Linked DNA regions of Homo sapiens: region 1 is linked to region 2. Evidence: fine-mapped expression QTL. A gene starts in region 2. The other region holds a variant in brackets. All regions are shown on one strand. Distances are from middle to middle.

The links. PIP is the estimated chance that this variant, and not a neighbour inherited with it, causes the effect.
Region 1: its variant is fine-mapped to the expression of METTL16 in whole blood (TOPMed, PIP 0.91).

What each region holds. Positions count from the first base shown.
Region 1 is chr17:2,412,693-2,422,611 of GRCh38, forward strand. It overlaps METTL16 (methyltransferase 16, RNA N6-adenosine), which reads right to left. Exons shown (of 10, transcript NM_024086.4): 9 at 8,039-8,212; 10 at 3,357-7,904. The coding sequence ends at 7,278. LOC284009 (a long non-coding RNA gene) reads right to left here and starts at 2,744. Exons shown (of 3, transcript NR_028335.1): 1 at 2,496-2,744; 2 at 1,703-1,779. The variant T/C (reference allele first, on the strand shown) is at 4,084.
Region 2 is chr17:2,506,463-2,516,381 of GRCh38, forward strand. It overlaps METTL16 (methyltransferase 16, RNA N6-adenosine), which reads right to left and starts at 5,426. Exons shown (of 10, transcript NM_024086.4): 1 at 5,297-5,426. RefSeq lists enhancers at 1-393, 394-1,304, 5,297-5,506, 5,577-5,626.

The sequences.
Region 1 (9,919 bases), 94 kb before region 2:
TTTTCCCAGCAGGAGACACAGTTTCCAAATGGCCAGTCTCTGGGCACAGGCCCCTGCTCACCAGTGTCCCAGGAGGGGGCCTGCTCAGCAGTGCCCTCTGGGCCACATTCTCATTCTCTCTCTGGACAGCAGCAGCACAAGCTGCCATTTCCCTGGGGCCTGACTGGCTCCTCGAGCCAGCCAAGTGCCCCAGCTGGGAACTTCCTGGCTCTGGTTTTTAGATTCTGGGGCCACATTCCCTGAATGGGTCCACCAGATGGCAGGCAGCCTTTCCTCTTCCCAGACTGATACTAGTTCACACACCCTGCCCGGGGAGGAGGCCTGGCTGTTTTTCTGGCAATTGCTACCTTCTCCAGGAAGCTCAAAAAGCACATCAGTTTTGTGTTGTTCTGTAAGTGAAATATCTGGAGCTGCCTTATTTTAAAAAAATAATTAAACCTCTCTTTCATTATACAATTATGTATTGCCAAAGAATAATTCACCTAATAATCAGTTATTTCCTATTGATTCTGGTCCAACATGTACTTTAACTAGACATTTTATTTTGCGCTTTCACTAACTACATAATTACCTGCACTACTGCCAAATACAAAGTTCTGTGAAGATTTGGTAGCATAATTTTTTTTTCTCATTCTGTCCCCCAGGCTGGAGCACAGTGGCGCGATCTCGGCTCACTGCAACCTCCGCCACCCGGGTTCAAGCGATTCTCCTGCCTCAGCCTCCCGAGTAGCTGGGATTACAGGTGTGAGCCACCACGCCCGGCTAATTTTTGTATTTTTAGTAGAGACGGGTTTCACCATGTTGGCCAGGCTGGTCTCAAACTCCTGACCTCAGGTGATCCACCCGCCTCGGCCTCCCAAAGTGCTGGGATTACAGGCGTGAGCCACTGCATCTGGCCCCAACATGTACTTTCACTAGATATTTTATTTTGCGCTTTCACTAACTACTTAATTATCTGCACTACTGCCAAATACAAAGTTCCGTGAAGATTTGGTAGCATAAATGAAGAATTCTAAGTAATTCCACTGACTACATGTCACTCGTTCATCATAGGCTGGAAAATAATATTACCTTGAAGTGCTAAACTGTGAGGGTGAAAGATGCTTTTTTCCTTCCCCGTGTTGTATCACTGCAGCCCCCTCCCTAGAGGTGGGTCAGACGAGCCTGGAAGTACATTTCCACATGAAGTGCGGCACTTGCTATAGACTTTTGAGTTCCGGCACAAGATCCCAGTCTTGGCTTCTTGGACCTGAGTTCGAATCCCATTTCTATGACTGAGCTCCGTGGATAACCTTACAGCAAGTCACTGACACTCTCTGAGCTTCCCTTTCCTTCAGCCACCACCTAGGAACGTCACACAGGCTGACGGGGTTACTAAATGAGACAGTGTGTGTGGAAGGTGGACCATCAATATTGGCCCCCAGTCCTCCCTCCATCACATCAAGTATGGGTTTTGCTCTTTGTCAACGGTGGTACTTTACACCTACAGACATACACGTGAGGTCTCAGCCTTTTCATCTGAGTCTACTGGTAGAAGGTTTTCTGAATGGAAATGGACAATTCAAAGAATCGGAAGAGGAGCAAGTGTTTCCACCCTCTGCTGAGATTTCAGTCCTTCTTGCACTTAAGCACTGCTCTAAATGTGAAGCGACAATTCCTCATCTGTGGCACGAGGAAGACAAGGCTTAGTAAACGGACTTACCCTGTGCAAGGAATGGAACTGGACGGGAACCCAGGTCTGAACGTCGAAGTCTGTGCTCTTTCCTGCCTCTTGCTCCCCTAGGGTGGGTGGAAAAGAGTCTTGGGTTTACACCTGCCTGGCCCTCTCAGAGCACCATTTGCGAGCCAGTTCTGCCAAGTCCGACTGTACTTTTCCTCTACCCCTTCTCCTTTCAGTTCCCCTGTGAGGGAAGCACCCACAATCTTCCTCTTCCCTAAGGAAACCCACGCTTCTGCTTGGATTGAGACCGGCAGACAGGCTACATCTCAAAGGGCACCTCGAGGGGCAAGGGCGTTCTGTAGTCACAACACAGTCCGTGGAGTACAAAGCACAGCCTCCACCAGGCAGCATTAGCTGCTCCAACCAGGAATTTAAAACACCAACCGCTGTTTTAGTCATTTGGCTGAGCCACAGCAGAGCATGTGAATGTCACAGAACAGAGCAGGAACGCCGGGGCACGTGTGATGCCCATCATCAGTGGGGCAGGCGCCGTCCGGGCCTCTGATACTGCGCTGGCACTCATACCGAGAGCCGCGTACTCGGGATTACTAGAGAGGTTCGACACATCAGTGCTGCCCGCAGGAGGCAGGAGTCAGTTCATTCTATTCAGCCTCTTCTGGGTTTTACCGAGGTTAGTGCCCATTCAGCAAACCAAGTCTCCTGTGCACCAACTTCCCTAAAAAGGCCGTGACCCTTTCCTGAGGGGACCCCCTCTATCGCCATAAACCTGCTGCACCTTTGAAATGCTCCTTCTTCCAGAGGGCTCTTGACTTACTTTTCCCACCTGGCCCCTTCTCCTCCTATGTGCACAACTGCTGGGCGGCCACATCTGATCCTGTACCAGAAACATAAGGGGAGACGGGATCCTCCTTGAGCCCACACAGACCCCAGCGTTCTCCCCAGAAACGCCCCTTGTGAGAAGCAAGGCCGGCTAACCGACAGCATCTACACCACACAGAACCCTCACCTTCTGATATAAGCAACACACGACATGCATGGTAGCCAGCCAACCAGAGGAACCCCAAACAAGGGTCAACAACAGAACACTGAACCCAGCTGCTTTTTTTTTTTTTTTTTTTTTTTTTTTTTGAGACTGAGTCTTACTCTGTTGCCTGGGCTGGAGTGCAGTGGCACGATCTTGGCTCACTGCAACCTCTGCCTCCCGGGTTCAAGCGATTCTCCTACCTCAGCCTCCTGAGTAGCTGGGATTACAGGCATGCACCACCACGCCCAGCTCATTTTTGTATTTTTAGTAGAAACAGGGTTTCACCATGTTGGTCAGGCTGGTCTTGAACTCCTGACCTTGTGATCTGCCTGCCTCTGCCTCCCAAAGTGCTGGGATGACAGGCGTGAGCCACCGCACCCGGCCTTCTGAACCCAGCTGCTTTCTTGGAGATCTTGGTATTACTCCTGGCTTTTGGAAAGTTACTGTTTGAAGATCACTCAGCATTTCCCCTCCAGTATCTTCATTAACTAGATATCAAGAAAAACTGGATCCAAAGGACTGGCCCAACCTGGATATATTCTAGAGTAGAAGGACAGCTGGAAAGAACAGAAAAAACAGTCAGCTGGGACCATTAAAAAAACATTAAAAAGTCGAAAGGGATTATACCAGGTAAAGAGACCATGGCTAGTGTTTTTTTCTCTTTCTACTTTTATTTTTCAAATTTTATTTCTGTGAAAATGTATTTGTTTACATAAAAATACAAATCTGGGTAGCAACTGGGTATTTCAAGAAAACACCGTGGACAGACTTGTCTCCATTCCCACGGGGAAGTGAAGGCGCTTTGATAAAAGGGCCAAGGGTGCCCTCGTGTGGCCACGGAGGGAAATGCCGCGGCTTCAGCAGAAAGGAGGGGCTCCAGGAGCTGGTCGTGAAGTCATCAGCTCCCTTCTTTCAAAAGGCCTCGGATTTCCCACAGGCTTTTCCATCTTTTCCACTCCTTGCAGTTTTGTTATTCCTGTCACAACTTAGAAGTTCGAGTGCTCACATGGTAAGCTTTGATTTCCATCGAGAGGAAAGGCTTTATGTTTTATAAAAAATATATACTAAAGTAATCTACACGAAGCTTAGGATGAGTTGAAAGGGTACTGCCAAAACGCGGCCCTGCCCAGGACACACAGCAGAGGTCTGGAGTGGGGACAGTGCGGCCAGCATGTGTGGGGAAGGAAGCAGGCTGACGGAGGCAAAGCAGATTCCGAAGAACAAAAGCAGCTTTAGTTTGCCTGGGCAACAGGCTCAACTTCTGTCTCCACTTCAGTTATCAGGAGACCAGAAGCCGATTCTAGGGACCAGAAGAGAATGTAGGGTCACATCACCAAGATTTAATTTCATACCAACCCCGCAACATGAATGTGACCTC[T/C]GGACACCGGGAGAGTAACACTCAAGGTTATGACATATGAGTCAATAACCCATTTCTTCAAAGAAAAACTTGCCCACCTGTACCAGAGGTATATGCTATGAAACAACACACAATTATAAAGCATATGCATGACCAAAACAATGCTTAGATGTCCTTTAAAAATATTTTCAATGTTCTCTCACTAGGTAGCCTAAGAAAATCTTCTCAGGGAAGGAAATGGAAACATCCAAATGCACAGAAGGCACTCGGCTCCAGACTGAAAGCTGGCCTGCTCATGGGTTCCTTTTTTTTTTTTTTTTTTTTTTTTTTTGAGACAGTCCCACTTTGTCGCCCAGGCTGTAGTGCAGTGGCATTCTCGGCTCACTGCAACCTCCACCTCCCAGGTTCAAGCGAGTCTCCTGCCTCAGCCTCCCGAGTAGCTGGGATTACAGGCACGTGCTATCATGCCCGGCTAATTTTTGTATTTTGAGTAGAGACGGGGTTTCGCCATGTTGGCCAGGCTGGTCTCAAACTCCCGACCTCATGCGATGCGCCCATCTCAGCCTCACAGTGCTGGGATTACAGGCGTGAGCCACTGCGCCTGGCCACGGTCACGGATTTTTTAAAACTCTAAGGTCATTAGCTTGACATCTATAAAATCTCCTCCATGACATGAAGCCTTAAACCTAGGGACAGAAACACACTGAGACACAGAAACACCTTCTGTGCTTCAATACACAGAGCATTCTCTGGAAATCCCTACGACACAGGCTTAAAGGCCAGTGCTGTGCCTGAAAGACATTTTGAACAGGCAAGGAGTGTAAGCTAATACACTACTGTTACAACATGGACAAATACTTGTAAGATGTTAAATGAACAAAGGACCAGAATACAAAACTGAATACGCAGCATGAGGACAACCAAAGTTAAACCCACACACTCACACACCCCGTCTACAGAGAGACTAGAAAGGAACACGCCAATGCCAAGAGTGGTTATGTTACAGAAGGTTGGGACTCGGGGTGATTTTGTTGTTTTGACTTTCATTTTTCCAAATCTTTAATGAGCATGTGCCACTCTTTCATAATGAAACAAGCAAACAATAAGTACTTACTACTTACTGAATGAATAGTTGCCACTTAAACAATTATCCTAAAATTATACCAAGGAAACTAGGTTTGGGCCCAGCAAATGACTCAAATGTAATATTCACTCGAGGTAAGGACAGTGGGGTGGTGTGGGCTGGCACAGCAGAAAATTTCTAGACCAGGGGAATCCACGGTCCTGAATTGAGTCTTGGCTCTGTGTGACCCTGGGTATTGTTTTTTGCAGCCTGACACATGAATGCTTGGACTAGAATAATGATTCTTAATCCTTAGTGGGTTATTGACCCCTTTGTCTGTGTCTGAGGGTTCTGGGAACCCTCTCTCCAGGAAAAAAAATACACACACACACACACACACACACACATGCTCACAGAGCTTTTAGAAGTAACTCTAGGAGGTACATGGACTCTCTGGAGGTCCACGGACCAGGTTAAGAACACTGGTCAGAGGCTGGGAGTAGTGGCTCACGGCTGTAATCCCAGCACTTTGGGAGGCCAAGGTGGGCGGATCACCCGAGATCATGAGTTCGAGATTAGCCTGGCCAACATGGTGAAATCCCATCTCTACCAAAAACACAAAATTAGCCAGGCGTGGTGGCGCGTGCCTGTAATCCCAGCTACTTGGGAGGCTGAGGCAGGAGAATCGCTTGAACCCGGGAGGCGGGGGTTGCAGTGAGCTAAGATCGCACCACGGCACTCCAGCCTAGACAACAAGAGTAAAACTCCACCTCATAACAAACAATCAATCAAAAAGCCACTGGTCAGTATGCTGCCTTCTCCAGCTCCAGCTCCACAGCCAAGTTAAGGCACAGCAGTTCCGCTTCCTGTGTCTCTGCCGAGGGCCTGATCTAGCTGCTGCCAAGACATGCCAAGGTCACCAGCTTCCCGTCCTGACCAACAGCCACCTCTCAGAAGGCTGGCTTAACTACTCAGCCCCAGTCTTCTTAGCAGATGGCAAGGAGCTCTGGCCAAGATTTTAGTCTAAACAGAACCCTAGGCTGCTGATGCAACATCAAGCACAGCAAAAGGTCACCCCTTTCCGGGGGGACGGCTACTGAACCCTGGCATTCCAATTAGAAACGTGTTTCAAGGACACAGTTACTCCGGCCTCAGAACTCTCCAATGTGAGTAGGTAAGTACAGGGGGGATTACAAGTGAAGCCACAAAAAAACAGTATTTGATCAGCAACAAAATATCTGAGACTTTCTTAAGCTACCTACGGCACATACTATTTTGTTCTATTTCTCATTTCTATCATCAGCCGCTCACTCAGCTAACCCCAGGATTCAAATAGGACCGCTGGTTTTTAATTTGTGAATATTCTTATTTAAAAACAAAACAAGCTCTACTTCAGATGTCCAAACAAAAATCACACAGTAGTAAAACTGCTACAAAATGGTACTGTCAACAGGCTGGAGGTGGGGGTATGGGTGCCTTCTGTGTGCCTCAGTCACACCGGGGAGTTTTGCTTACCTAATTCTGCTTCTGAAATAAGCAACATCAAAACAGCCAGGTGTCAGGAATGTGCCATTTACCGGGTGGTCCCCAGACTCTGCTGCTCCTTCCCAGCATTACTAAGGTTTCTCTCCCAGATTCCCCACCACCCACCATACAGCTCCCTTTGTGGGATTGATGCAAGGTAGGCCCCATCTTGAAGAGTGACCTAGAACAGGGTACCAGGGCCTCCAGCTGGAGGCAGAGAGAGCCACCCCTCCTCAAGAAACACCCTTGGGTGACAGAGACAGCATGATATTCTAGGCAGTGCTGCCCAGCCCAGACTCCACAAACAACCCTTCTGACCTTGCAGAGGCAGTCCAGAGCTGAGGGGCCAGCTTGAGCCAGCTTGCAATCCCTCGGGAGTTTACTGAGGGCTTTCTGTTGTTACTGATGACCACAATTCCTCCTTGTAAATGACCACACTACGACTCCCTGTAACTCAAAAAGCGGGAAGGAGGCGGGGGGAGGTGGGGGACAGATTCATAGGTTTTTGTTTTCGAAGATAATTCCACATCGTGCTACTAATGGGCCGCTGGTAGGATTCCTCTTGCCACCCCACAGGCCACTCCAAAGCAAGTTACTATCAACACGTTTCCAACTGTGCAGGAGGTTTCTAGTTAACTGCAACAAGCCTGAAAATTTGGTTACGTATGTAGGTGCAAAGCTGGTTCATCAGATCCCTGTTCTGGCCCTCAACCCAGTGCATCTCCACTAAGGCATCGTCCACCTCCTTCTTAACGTTTATCAAACACTTAAACAGGTACTGTCCGGCCACTCCTGGGAGACGTTTCCCCCTTTCAGCCACTGGGCTGCCGAACTGCTCAGAAGCCTCTTGGTCCTGGGCTCCGTTGCTAGAGCCTTGACAACTTTCCAAAACCTCCACCCCTCCCTTTTCCTCACTCCTTTCATCCTCCGTGGGTTCCGGGTTTTCCTCCTGGGACAGGGACTCCTGGCTCGGGCACGGGCCCTCCACAGCGGCAGCCTCGCCTTCCCGCAGAGCAGGCCCACAGGGGGTCCTCTCCTGGGGGCCCCTGGCCAGTTCTTGGCTATTGCCAGACTCTTTGGGGGTGGGCTTTTTCTCTTCCAAGGCCTGAATGACGTCCTCAGGAGCTCGGGGAACTTCTCTCAGCTGTCTCACACGCTCTCTTTTCTTTCTCCTTAAATGAATCCAGGAGTTTTCTATGGCCGTTAGGAAAAGGCTGACTTCCTCTTTTCCACAGGGAACTCGTTTATGCTGGACCTGTTTGGAGGAAAAACAGAATTTTGTGGGAAATCACGTTTCCCCTCTCTCCAAACTCTCAATAAAAAAAAAAAGAAAAAAGAAAAAAGAGAAGGATCATTATGAGTACTTCGTCAATATGGTTAAGCAGGTACCTTCAAATCAGTGAGAATTTTTTCAATCCATGTCGTGACAACGACTATGCCTTCCGCCGTCTCCGAGCGCAGAGGTGATGCTTTGAGGGATAATTCCTTCATCACGGACGCCAGCACCACGAATGTTATGGGTTTTCTCGGTTTCTCTAATTTTCTTCGCTTACTTGGTGGTGACTGCAAGAAAAAGGAAGCATAGAAAAGAGAAGAAAGTTATCCGAATAATTAAACCTCATGCATTGTAATGAACTCAGAGAAAATTTCCACAACTTCTGCTACCAATCATAGAGCACTGAAAACACAAAGGGTTTTGTGTGTGTTATGTCCAGCACTTAAAACAACCCTGCAAGGTGCAGTCATTCACGCCTATAATCCCAGCACTTTGGGGGGCCATGGCAGGAGCATCACTTGAGCCCAGGAGTTTGAGATCAGCCCCAGCAACATAGTAAGACCTCCATCTCTAAAAAAACGTTTAAAACTAGTCAGCCACAATGGTGTATGCCTGTGGTCCCGGCTACTCTGAAAGCAGAGGAGGGAGGATCATTTGAGCCCAAGACTTCCAGGCTGCAGGGAGCTCTGATTGCGCCACCGCAATCTAGCCCAGGAAACGGGGTGAGACCCTGTCTCTTAAGAAAAAAAAAATTTTTAATTAAAAAAATAAGAACCCCACAAGATAGTTTAGGCATCTCCAGGAAAACGAAGATACAGAAAGGCTATGTCACACAGCTCAAGGTCACACAGTAACTGCAGTTAGGACTGAACGCCGAACCCACGTTCTTTCCAGCCGCACCGCACTGCCTTTGTTCTGGCTATCAGATGTAACTCCTCCAACTGCTAAACGTCCTTCGTGTACCTGTGGTACCCAAAGCAGACCTGCACAATTATTTATTTCATGACAACTCGAGGACCCTGGGGGCACTGTGTTCTTGGCTGGAAAGAACTGCAGGGCAGAAACATCATCAACTTGTAGTTTGAGTTTATATTGGCTGAGGCTTGAGATAAAGCAGCCGGTGAACCACAGCCATGAGATGACATGCGAGGAAGGATCAGGGCCACTAAGATCACGTGGGCAGAGGAGGAGGACTCCTGAATCGTGGCTGATGTCGGGACCAAGCCGGCGGCGAGCTAAGCACTGCCTTTTAGCTGGGGAGGGTGACACCGGCGCTGATGAGAAGACTGGATTTCAAAGCTGGTTCCAAGAAAATCACGACTGGCATCTTCCATTCTATCTCAAGCTGGGAAGGTGAATTATACCCTACCCACTAGAGGGACTCAAGTTCCACTTTAAAAACCAATGGCACCTGCCGGGCGCGGTGGCTCATGCTTGTAATCCTAGCACTCTGGGAGGCCGAAGCAGGCAGATCACTTGAGGTCAGGAGTTCAAGACCATCCTGGCCCACATGGTGAAACCCCGTCTCTACCAAAAATACAAAAATTAGCTGGGCATGGGGGCACGCACCTATAATCCCAGCTACTCGGGAGGCTGAGGCAGAAGAATTGCTTGAACCCAGGAGCCAAAGGTTGCAGTGAGCCAAAGGTTGCAGTGAGCCGAGATTGTGCCACTGCACTCCAGTCTGGGCCTGGGCAACAAGAGTGAAACTCCGTTTTAGAAAAAAAAAAAAACAAAACCAATGCCACCACTGTATTGAAAATTTATTTATTCATTTATTTATTTTTGAGATGGAATCTCACTCTGTCACTGGAGTGCAATGGCGCCATCTCGGCTCACTGCAACCTCCACCTCCGGTTTCAAGCGATTCTCCTGCCTCAGCCTCCCAAGTACCTGGGACTACGTCACCAAGCCCAGCCAATTTTTGTATTTTTAGTAGAGACGGGGTTTCACCATGTTGGCCAGGATGGTCTCGATCTCTTGACCTCGTGATC
Region 2 (9,919 bases):
TTTTTGGTGGAGACGGGGTTTCGCTGTGTTGGCCGGGCTGGTCTCCAGCTCCTAACCGCGAGTGATCCGCCAGCCTCGGCCTCCCAAGGTGCCGGGATGGCAGACGGAGTTGCGTTCACTCAGTGCTCAATGGTGCCCAGGCTGGAGTGCAGTGGCGTAATCGCGGCTCGCTACAACCTCCACCTCCCAGCTGCCTGCCTTGGCCCCGCAAAGTGCCGAGATTGCAGCCTCTGCCCAGCCGCCACCCCGTCTGGGAAGTGAGGAGCGTCTCTGCCTGGCCGCCCATCATCTGGGATGTGAGGAGCCTCTCTGCCTGGCTGCCCAGTCTGGAAAGTGAGGAGCGTCTCTGCCCGGCCGCCATCCCATCTAGGAAGTGAGGAGCGTCTCTGCCCGGCCGCCCATCATCTGAGATGTGGGGAGCGCCTCTGCCCTGCCGCCCCGTCTGGGATGTGAGGAGCATCTCTGCCCGGCCGCCCCGTCTGAGAAGTGAGGAGACCCTCTGCCTGGCAACCGCCCCGTCGGAGAAGTGAGGAGCCCCTCCGCCCGGCAGCCACCCCGTCTGGGAAGTGAGGATCGTCTCCACCCGGCAGCCACCCCGTCCGGGAGGGAGGTGGGGGTCAGCCCCCCGCCTGGCCAGCCGCCCCGTCCAGGAGGTGAGGGGCACCTCTGCCCGGCCGCCCCTACTGCGAAGTGAGGAGCCCCTCTGCCCGGCCAGCCGCCCCGTCCGGGAAGGAGGTGAGGGGGTCAGCCCCCCGCCCGGCCAGCCGCCCCGACCGGGAGGTGAGGGGCGCCTCTGCCCGGCCGCCTCTACTGGGAAGAGAGGAGCCCCTCTGCCCGGCCAGCCACCCCATCCAGGAGGGAGGTGGGGGGGTCAGCCCCCCACCCAGCCAGCCACCCCGTCCGGGAGGGAGGTGGGGGGGTCAGCCCCCAGCCCGGCCAGCCGCCCCATCCGGGAGGTGAGGGGTGCCTCTGCCCGGCCGCCCCTACTGGGAAGTGAGGAGCCCCTCTGCCCGGACAGCCGCCCTGTCCGGGAGGGAGGTGGGGGGGTCAGCCCCCCGCCCGGCCAGCCGCCCCATCCGGGAGGTGAGGGGCGCCTCTGCCCGGCCGCCCCTACTGGGAAGTGAGGAGCCCCTCTGCCCGGCCACCACCCCGTCTGGGTGGTGTACCCAACAGCTCATTGAGAATGGGCCATGATGACAATGGCGGTTTTGTGGAATAGAAAAGGGGGAAAGGTGGGGAAAAGATTGAGAAATCGGATGGTTGCCGTGGCTGTGTAGAAAGAGGTAGACATGGGAGACTTTTCATTTTGTTCTGTACTAAGAAAAATTCTTCTGCCTTGGGATCCTGTTGATCTGTGACCTTACCCCCAACCCTGTGCTCTCTGAAATATGTGCTGTGTCCACTCAGGGTTGAATGGATGAAGGGTGGTGCAAGATATGCTTTGTTAAACAGATGCTTGAAGGCAGCATGCTCCTTAAGAGTCATCACCACTCCCTAATCTCAAGTACCCAGGGACACAAACACTGCGGAAGGCCGCAGGGTTCTCTGCCTAGGAAAACCAGAGACCTTTGTTCACTTGTTTATCTGCTGACCTTCCCTCCACTATTGTCCTGTGACCCTGCCAAATCCCCCTCTGCGAGAAACACCCAAGAATGATCAATAAAAAAAAAAAAAAAGACAAATCCTCTATTATAACATCTCCTAGCAATAAATATTTTTCTTTTGCAATCTTTGTTAGAGACATAATTTTACATAGTCATAAATCTGTCAATGCTATTTCAGATGGTTTTTTGACAGCTTCCTACACTGGAAATTAAACCAATTTCAGAAAAGAACTGTTGTCTTCATTCCAGACTTTTCCAAATCACATATCCAACTGCCTACCATATTTCTCACTTGAAGGGCTCAAAAATACATGTACAATATGTGCAAAATTAAATCACTTCTACCCACCCCAAACTGGTCCTTCTCATCTTCCCTATCTCACCAAATGCACTGCTATCTTTCTTGTGATAAACACATCAAAAATCTTCAACACCTTCTCCATGCTGCCTCCCCCATTCACAACACACCAGGTCCTGAATACTCCATCTCCCAATTATTTCTTGACCTTATCCCACTTTTCACCCTTCACAACACCACCTCTCTGGCCCAGGTCATTATCATGTCTTTCTTGGGTTGCTCTAAGAGTCTCAAACTGATCTCTTCATAAACACTCTTGCCCTCTACCAGCCACTTTTCACTCAGCAGACAAGCCACTCCCCCCATGCAAATGTGAACATTTCCTTATTAAATCCCTTCAGTGGCATCCCAAAGCTATTAAGCTAAAAAAGTCTAAAATCATTAAAAAGGCAGGCATAATCCAGGCCTTATCTGTCCCTCCAACTTCATTTGTTGCCACTTTCCCCTTCCAGACATACTGGTCTTCTTCCATTTTCTCTGCTGCATGGTAGTCTGTCTCACCATCTCCTATTCTTACTGCCTGTAAGACTCTCCTCAACCTCCCACCATCGCCTTTCACCTCTGAAGGTCCACTAGCTACTCAAATCACACCCTAGGCATCATTTACTCAGGCAGCCTTTCTCTGACCCCACAATCCAATCAGATGCCCATCTACACGCTTTCAAAGCACCCTGTGCTGCTTCTCCCTCAGAGATCTTCAGTTTACTACTGGGTGTGTAATTAATTTGCATATGTCACACATAGACCTGCAACCATATCCATCCTAGTCTTTACTATACCCCCAGCAACCTGTATACAATAAATATTTTTTGAGTAAACAATTCAGAATTTGAGGGGATTAGTAGTCACCTGAAAGTTTTTCAGCATACTGTTACTACATTTTGCCCCTCACACTATGACTAAAAATGACTATATACCTGTCTTAATTTCCTAGCATTGACATACCCTTTACTGACCATCAGGAAAGAGGGGAGCATAAAACTAGGATGGCCCCCAGTTCTCAAGAAAACATCAACTGGGCAAGGTGGTGCATGCCTGTGTTCCTAGCTACTAGGGATGCCAAGGATAGCTTGAGCCCAGGAGTTCCAGTCCAGCCTGGGCCACACAGTGAGACCCTGTCTCAAAATAAACAAATACAAATAATAGACTTTATTAAAAAGAAAATATCCAAAATTAAAGTGTTGGCCGGGCACAGTCGCTCACGACTATAATCCCAACACTTTCGGAGGCCAAGACTGGAGGATCACCTGAGGTCAGGAGTTTGTGAGACCAGCCTGGCCAACATGGAGACCATCCTGGCCAACATAGTGAAACCCTATCTCTACTAAAAATACAAAAATTAGCTGGGTGTGGTGGCATGTGCCTGAAGTCCCAGCTACTTGGGAGGCTGAGGCAGGAGAATCACTTGAATTCAGGAGGCCGAAGTTGCAGTGAGCCAAGATCACGCCACTGCACTCCAGCCTGGTGACAGAGCAACACTCCGTCTCAAAAAAAAAAAAAAAATTAGCTGGGCGTGGTGGTGGGTGCCTGTAATCCCAGCTACTCGGGAGGCTGAGGCAGGAGAATCACTTGAACCCAGGAGGTGGAGGTTGCAGTGAGCCAAGATCGTGCTACTGCACTCCAGCCTTGGTGACAGTGAAACTGTCTCAAAAAAAAAAAAGAAAAAGAAAATGTTCTTTCTTGTGATTCTGGCAAGCAACAAAAAAAAGTAAACTAAGAGTAATTTCTTTAAACTGATGGAAAATATTTTCCCAATTTATGGGGGACATGTGACATTTATGCGGTATTTGTTCCACGCATAGAATGTGTGCTGATCAAGTCAGAGTATATGGGGTATTCACCACTTTGAGTATTTTTTATATCTATGTATTGGTAACATTTCAAGCCCTCTCCTAGCTATTTTGAAATATACATTGTTGCTGACTTTAGTCACCATATCCTAACAGTGACTTCAAGAGACAGTGGCATGTTAGGGCTCTGCCACACATTAAGGAAAATTCTACAGACTACATAGCTGACATCAGTGCACACACAACATAATACTCTGAATATATGTGAAACAAATTAAATTACAGACATGGCAGATTCGATTCATTTCCTACATTATTCAACTTTTCTGGTCAGAACAGATACAGAATGAGTAAATACAACCACTTCTTTTCTAACTAACCTCCCAATATAGGCAATGAGTTCTTAGCTAAATATAACCTATTCTTCAGAGTTTAACTGGGCATCAATTCTTTTTTTTTTCTTCTTGTTGAGACAAGGTCTTCCATTCTGTTGCCCAGAGTGCAATGATGGAATCATAGCTCCCTGCAGCCTCCAACTCCTGAGATCAAGCAATCCTCCCGCCTGAGCCTCCCAAGCAGCTGGGACTACAGGTACAGAGCACTGCACCTGGTTAATTTACTTCATTTTTTGTAGAAAGGGAGTCTGGCTTTGCTACCCAGGCTCTAGCTTCAATTTTCTACACAGAATTTACCCATCTGGCATTCCATATATTTTACTTACTTTAAAAAATCTCCCGTCAGTAAGTTTCAAGAGGGTAAATATTTTGTCTGTCTTGTTCACCGCATATCCCAACGCCTAAAATAGGGCCTAAGAGAGTAGGCACTCAAGTATTTGTTGATTGAAACCACGATAGAACTCTTCCCTGTCTGGACCACCGACACAAAGCACCCTCACTGAGTTTCAAAAAAAGCTCAGCCCATGGACTGGAACTTTTCTTCCCGGTTACTTGAGTCAGTCCAGAAAGCCACAGTTAATAGTAGAACCCTGAGAATGAGGCTTTCCCTTTTTTTTTTTTTCTTTCTCATCTCCATGCTTCTGTTTCCTTGGTTCCTCTTGACCATTAACCCTCTTCAACTACCACTCTCTTGATACACAGCCTGTAAAACAGTCTAAATTCCAATTTCAGAACTTCAAATTCTTTCTGCACAGATCCCTCCCACTTCCACACCAATCTACATCTTCTCTCTTCGCCTTCTCTCATAAATCCGACGTTTCCCACTAGTCCTGCCACTGCCGTTCTTTCCATGCCCTCATTTTATCAGCTCAGTTTGTCTTCCCGCCTCAGTTTTGGATCTCTCTAAACCTCCTAAACACCGGGGAGTCTTTCCTACTTCAGTCCTAGTCTCTATTCTATTCGCCAACTCCTCCCACTCATCCACTCTCAACACCCCCGCGTGCGCACACACAGCCACATCAGGTCTCCCCTCCTAGACCCCGAAGTCGGCACCTCACTAGCCCAAAACTCAAGAATGAGGAACCCGTGTGATCCACGGGTTAAGTGACCCATGATAGTAAATCTGCGTGAGAGATATAAGTGACCCACCTCTGAGGCCGAGGTTCCTGCCAGACGTCGTGTCTGGCGTGGGCCTGTACAACCCTAGAATCTTAAAGCAGCCGCATAGCGAAGCTCCTAGAAACGCAGATGATACGCTCCCAGCGCGCCGCCATCTTGTGAAGCCATCTAGCCTCGTGATTGGACACATCCCTCTCGCGCGACCTGTGGCTGATCTTGAAGAAAGAAGAAACCCTCGCGACACCTGGGGTTTGCTGCTCCTAACAGAAGGCGCGGGGGCGTGGTGACGAGCGGAGTCCTTTGAGGTATGGCAGGAGGAGGACATGCGTTCGAATTCGCGAGAAAACTTATTTAAAAGAAAAAGAAACAAGTTTTCCGGGCCCTGCTGCAGACTTACCTCTCACACTCACTGGGATTGGGCAGGTTATGAAGATGAGGGTACGAGACTTGGGTGTGATGGCGTGCAGTGAGCCCTTTTTGTGCAACAGGTGTGTCCTCAGCCGATGTCTCACTCACTGAATTGTAAGAGATATAAGCCTGTGGGTTGGGGAAGAGTACTCTCGTTTACAGCGAAAGAACTGAGGATCCGGCCGGACGCGGCGGCTCACGCTTGTAATCCCAGCACTTTGGGAGGCTGAGGCGGGCAGATCACCTGAGGTCAGGAGTTCAAGACCAGCCTGGACAACATGGTGAAACCCCGTCTCTACTAAAAATACAAAAATTAGCCGGGCGTGGTGGCGGGCGCCTGTAATCCCAGCTACTCGGGAGGCTGAGGCAGGAGAATCGCTTGAATCCGGGAAGCGGAGGTTGCAGTGAGCCAAGATCGCACCACTGCACTCCAGCCTGAGCGAAAGAGCAAGACTCTGTCTCAAAAAAAAAAAAAAAAGGGGGGGCCTGCCTACGTCCTCGTCGTTAATGTGAACGCTTCTGGCAAACTATTACCATAAAATTGGGAGATAGTAAGGATTAAGGAATGGAGACTTATACACAAGTGAGTACCAGTAGTCACCCAAGGAAAGCTGAGGAGGTGTTTTCATAATCTGTTGTGTAACAAACCGCCCCAAAACGTAAGACTTAAAACAACCACCATTTTACTTGCTCACAGTTCTGCAATCTGGGCTGGGATTAGCCCACCCGTTCTGCTGGTCTTGCCAGTGGTCATAGCAACAAGTGGGGGCTGGTTCCGCTGAAAGAACTGGGTCTCTCTCCCTGTAGTCCAAGTTCTCTCCCTGTCCACGTGGCCTTTCCATGTAATTTGTCTAGCAGAGTAGGATGACATTTTTTTTTTCCCCCGAGATGGAGTTTCTTATTGCCCAGGCTGGAGTGCAATGGCGCCATCTCGGCTCACTGCATGCAACCTCTGCCTCCTGGGTTCAAGCGATTTTCTTGCCTCAGCCTCCCAAGTAGCTGAGTAGCTGAGATTACAGGCGCCCGCCACCATGCCCAGCTAATTTTTTGTATTTTTAGTAGAGACGGGGTTTCATCCTGTTGGCCAGGCTGGTCTCAAACTCCTGACCTCAGATGATCCACCCGCCTCGGCCTCCCAAAGTACTGAGATTACAGGCATGAGCCATCGTGCCCCGCCAGAATACTTCTTACATGTTGGCTCGGGGCTCCCAAAAGGGCAAAAGTGGAAGCTGCCAGGCCTTCTTAAAGCGTAGGTGCAGAACTAGCACCTTGGCTATATTCTTGGTTAAAGCAAGTAGAAGGGCTAGCCCCAATTCAAGGGGAGGGGACTATGCCAGGGTCCCTTCCAATACTGGAAGGCATGGTTCATTTCAGCAACCAATGTAACATATTACCACAGAAAGTTTTCCATCTTTGGTTGGTAGTGGCTTTGATACTAGTTATGGCATTTTATTTAGTGCATGCTGCTGGAAAGGTAAAAGAAAAGATGGCCTCGGAGATAGGACTGGTGGGGTTGAAGTGATTGTATTTAAGATATTGGTAACTTTCTGTTAGCTCCAAAGAGCAACCCAGTTTACCTGTAGGTCGGGCCAGAGAGACCCTAGTAGCACTGCAGCTGGGAAACCTGGCCTTTAATCCTGCCCCCACCATTTACTAACCCTGTGAGTATGGGCAATTTGCTTAAACACTTGAAGGCTTAGTTTGCTCAATATTACAAAATAGGATAATAATCTCATGGGGTTGTGAGAATTAAATCAGATAATGCATATAAAACAGCAGAATGTCTAGTATATAGTGAGTTCCTAATAATAATAATATTGTTCCTTATAACTTCTCTGGTCAGTTTTTTTTAAGTATTCCATAAAGATAAAACATTTTAATAACTGAAAATTTTTAAATAATTTAAATAATACATAAAGATATCAGAAAGACAAAAATTATCTAAAATCTCACCACTCACAGCCAAGCACCATCAAATTTGGGTAACCTTACTACTAAACCTCTATATCTCATAAGGATATATAACCAAATAATTTTTATACAAATAATAATATATATTTGTATATATATGTAATTACATATATATACACACACACACATGCACATATACTCAAATATAACTCTTGGAGATTCTTCCACTTCCAACAATATAGCTCTTTATTGTTCTTTGTGATAGGTGCACAGTATTCCATTGAATGCATATAACACTTTTTTTTTTTTTTTTGAGACAGAGTCTCTCTGTCGCCCAGGCTGGAGTGCAGTGGCGTGATCTCGGCTCACTGCAACCTCCACCTCCTAGGTTCAAGCGATTCTTCTGCCTCAGCCTCCCGAGTAGCTGGGATTACAGGTGCCCACCACCACGCCTGGCTAATTTTTTTGTATTTTTAGTAGAGACAGGGTTTCACCATGTTGGCCAGGTTGGTCTCGAACTCCTGACTTCGTGATCCACTCGCCTCGGCCTCCCAGAGGGCTGGGATTATAGGCCTGGGCCACCGCACCCAGCTGGATATACCACTTTTTAAAAAACTAATTCGTGCCCAGGTTGGGTTGGCCAGACCTATAATCCCAGCACTCTGAGAGGCGAAGGCAGGTGGGTCACTTGAGGTCAGGAGTTTGAGACCAGCCTGGCCAACATAGTCAAACCCCGTCTCCATTAAAAATACAAAAATTAGCTGGGCGTGGTGGCGGGCACCTGCAATCCCAGCTACTCGGGAGGCTGAGGCAGGAAAATCGCTTAAACCCGGGAGGCAGAGGTTGCAGTGAGCCGAGATCGCGCCATTGCACTCCAGCCTGGGCAACAGAGTAAGACTCCATCTCAAAAACAAACAAACAAACAAACAAACAAACAACAACAAAAAAAAAACTAATTCCCCTGTGGATGGACATAGGTTCTTTCCAATGTATCTGGTATGACCTATTCCCAAATATTGTGGTACAATGATAAATACATATCCTTGAAAACTTTTTTATATAAAATGAAAATTATCTGGAGACTCCACAGAATAGATTAACAACATCTGCCTTTTTCCAAATTTACCCTGAAATGTCCAAGGATGTAATTGGTCAGAGAAGTCTCTCAAACTTCCATACCACAGCAAGGACAGTGCAGATGTCCAATTAGCCAGTTACATCCTTTGCTACCTCTTTGTAGCAGGAAACTGATTCTGCACATCCAGTGAATAATGCTGCTAATTATGAAATGTTGCCTAGCAAGTTATCAGAGCTGCTTTCAGCATCAGCTGCCTACTGGACTGGAATCAATCCTTGAGGGCATCAGACTGGACTCCCTCTTGACTGAAATTAATTATTTCAAGGACTTTGTGGCCCTTCCCTGTCACTGTCCTTTGGCCACAGCCAGCCTGTCAACAGCCACAGGTCTCTCTAACTTTGTATTTCAGAAAGTAATCATTGAGTATCAATTTCTTCTAGCTTAGAAGACTCTAGCTTCCTTATGTAAATGTATCCACCTCCTTCTTAGGGACCAAGTTTACATATCAGGGATCTAATAGCCATTATAGTTGTCACAAAAGCTATATCCAGGCAGGTGCAGTGGCTTACACCTGTAATCCCAGCACTTTCGGAGGCTGAGGAGGGTGGATCACCTGTGGTCATGAGTTCTAGACTAGCCTGGCCAACATGATGAAACCCCGTCTCTATTAAAAATACAAAAAATTAGTCAGGCGGGGTGGTAGATGGCTGTAATCCCAGCTACTTGGGAGGCTGAGGCAGGAGAATCACTTGAACCCAGGAGGCAGAGATTGCAGTGAACTGAGATCACGCCACTGCATTCCAGCCTGGGCAACAGCAAGAGTCCATGACAAAAAAAAAAAAAAAAAAAAAAAGATATCCTGTTACAGAACAATTATTTTTTCTCAGCTTACATTTACATAACTGAGAGAGCCACTGAAGTGATCCTCTGCACTAAGGATACCACATTTTCTTTTTCATTTCTTTACGGTTTTTGAGACAGGATCTCATTCTGTCACCCAGGCTGGAGTGTAGCGTCATGATCACAGCTCACTGTAGACTCGACTACCTGGGCTCTTGAATCCGGGAGGCAGAGGTTGCAGTTAGCCAAGATCACGCCATTGCACTCCCCCCTGGGCAACAGAGGGAGACTCCGTCTCAAAAAATAAAATAAATAAATGAATAATGATAGCTGGTGGAAGAACTGGATATAAATGTACATCTTACTACTGCCCTGCTTCCTGTTCCAAGTCTCATAAAACAGAACATACTCATTTT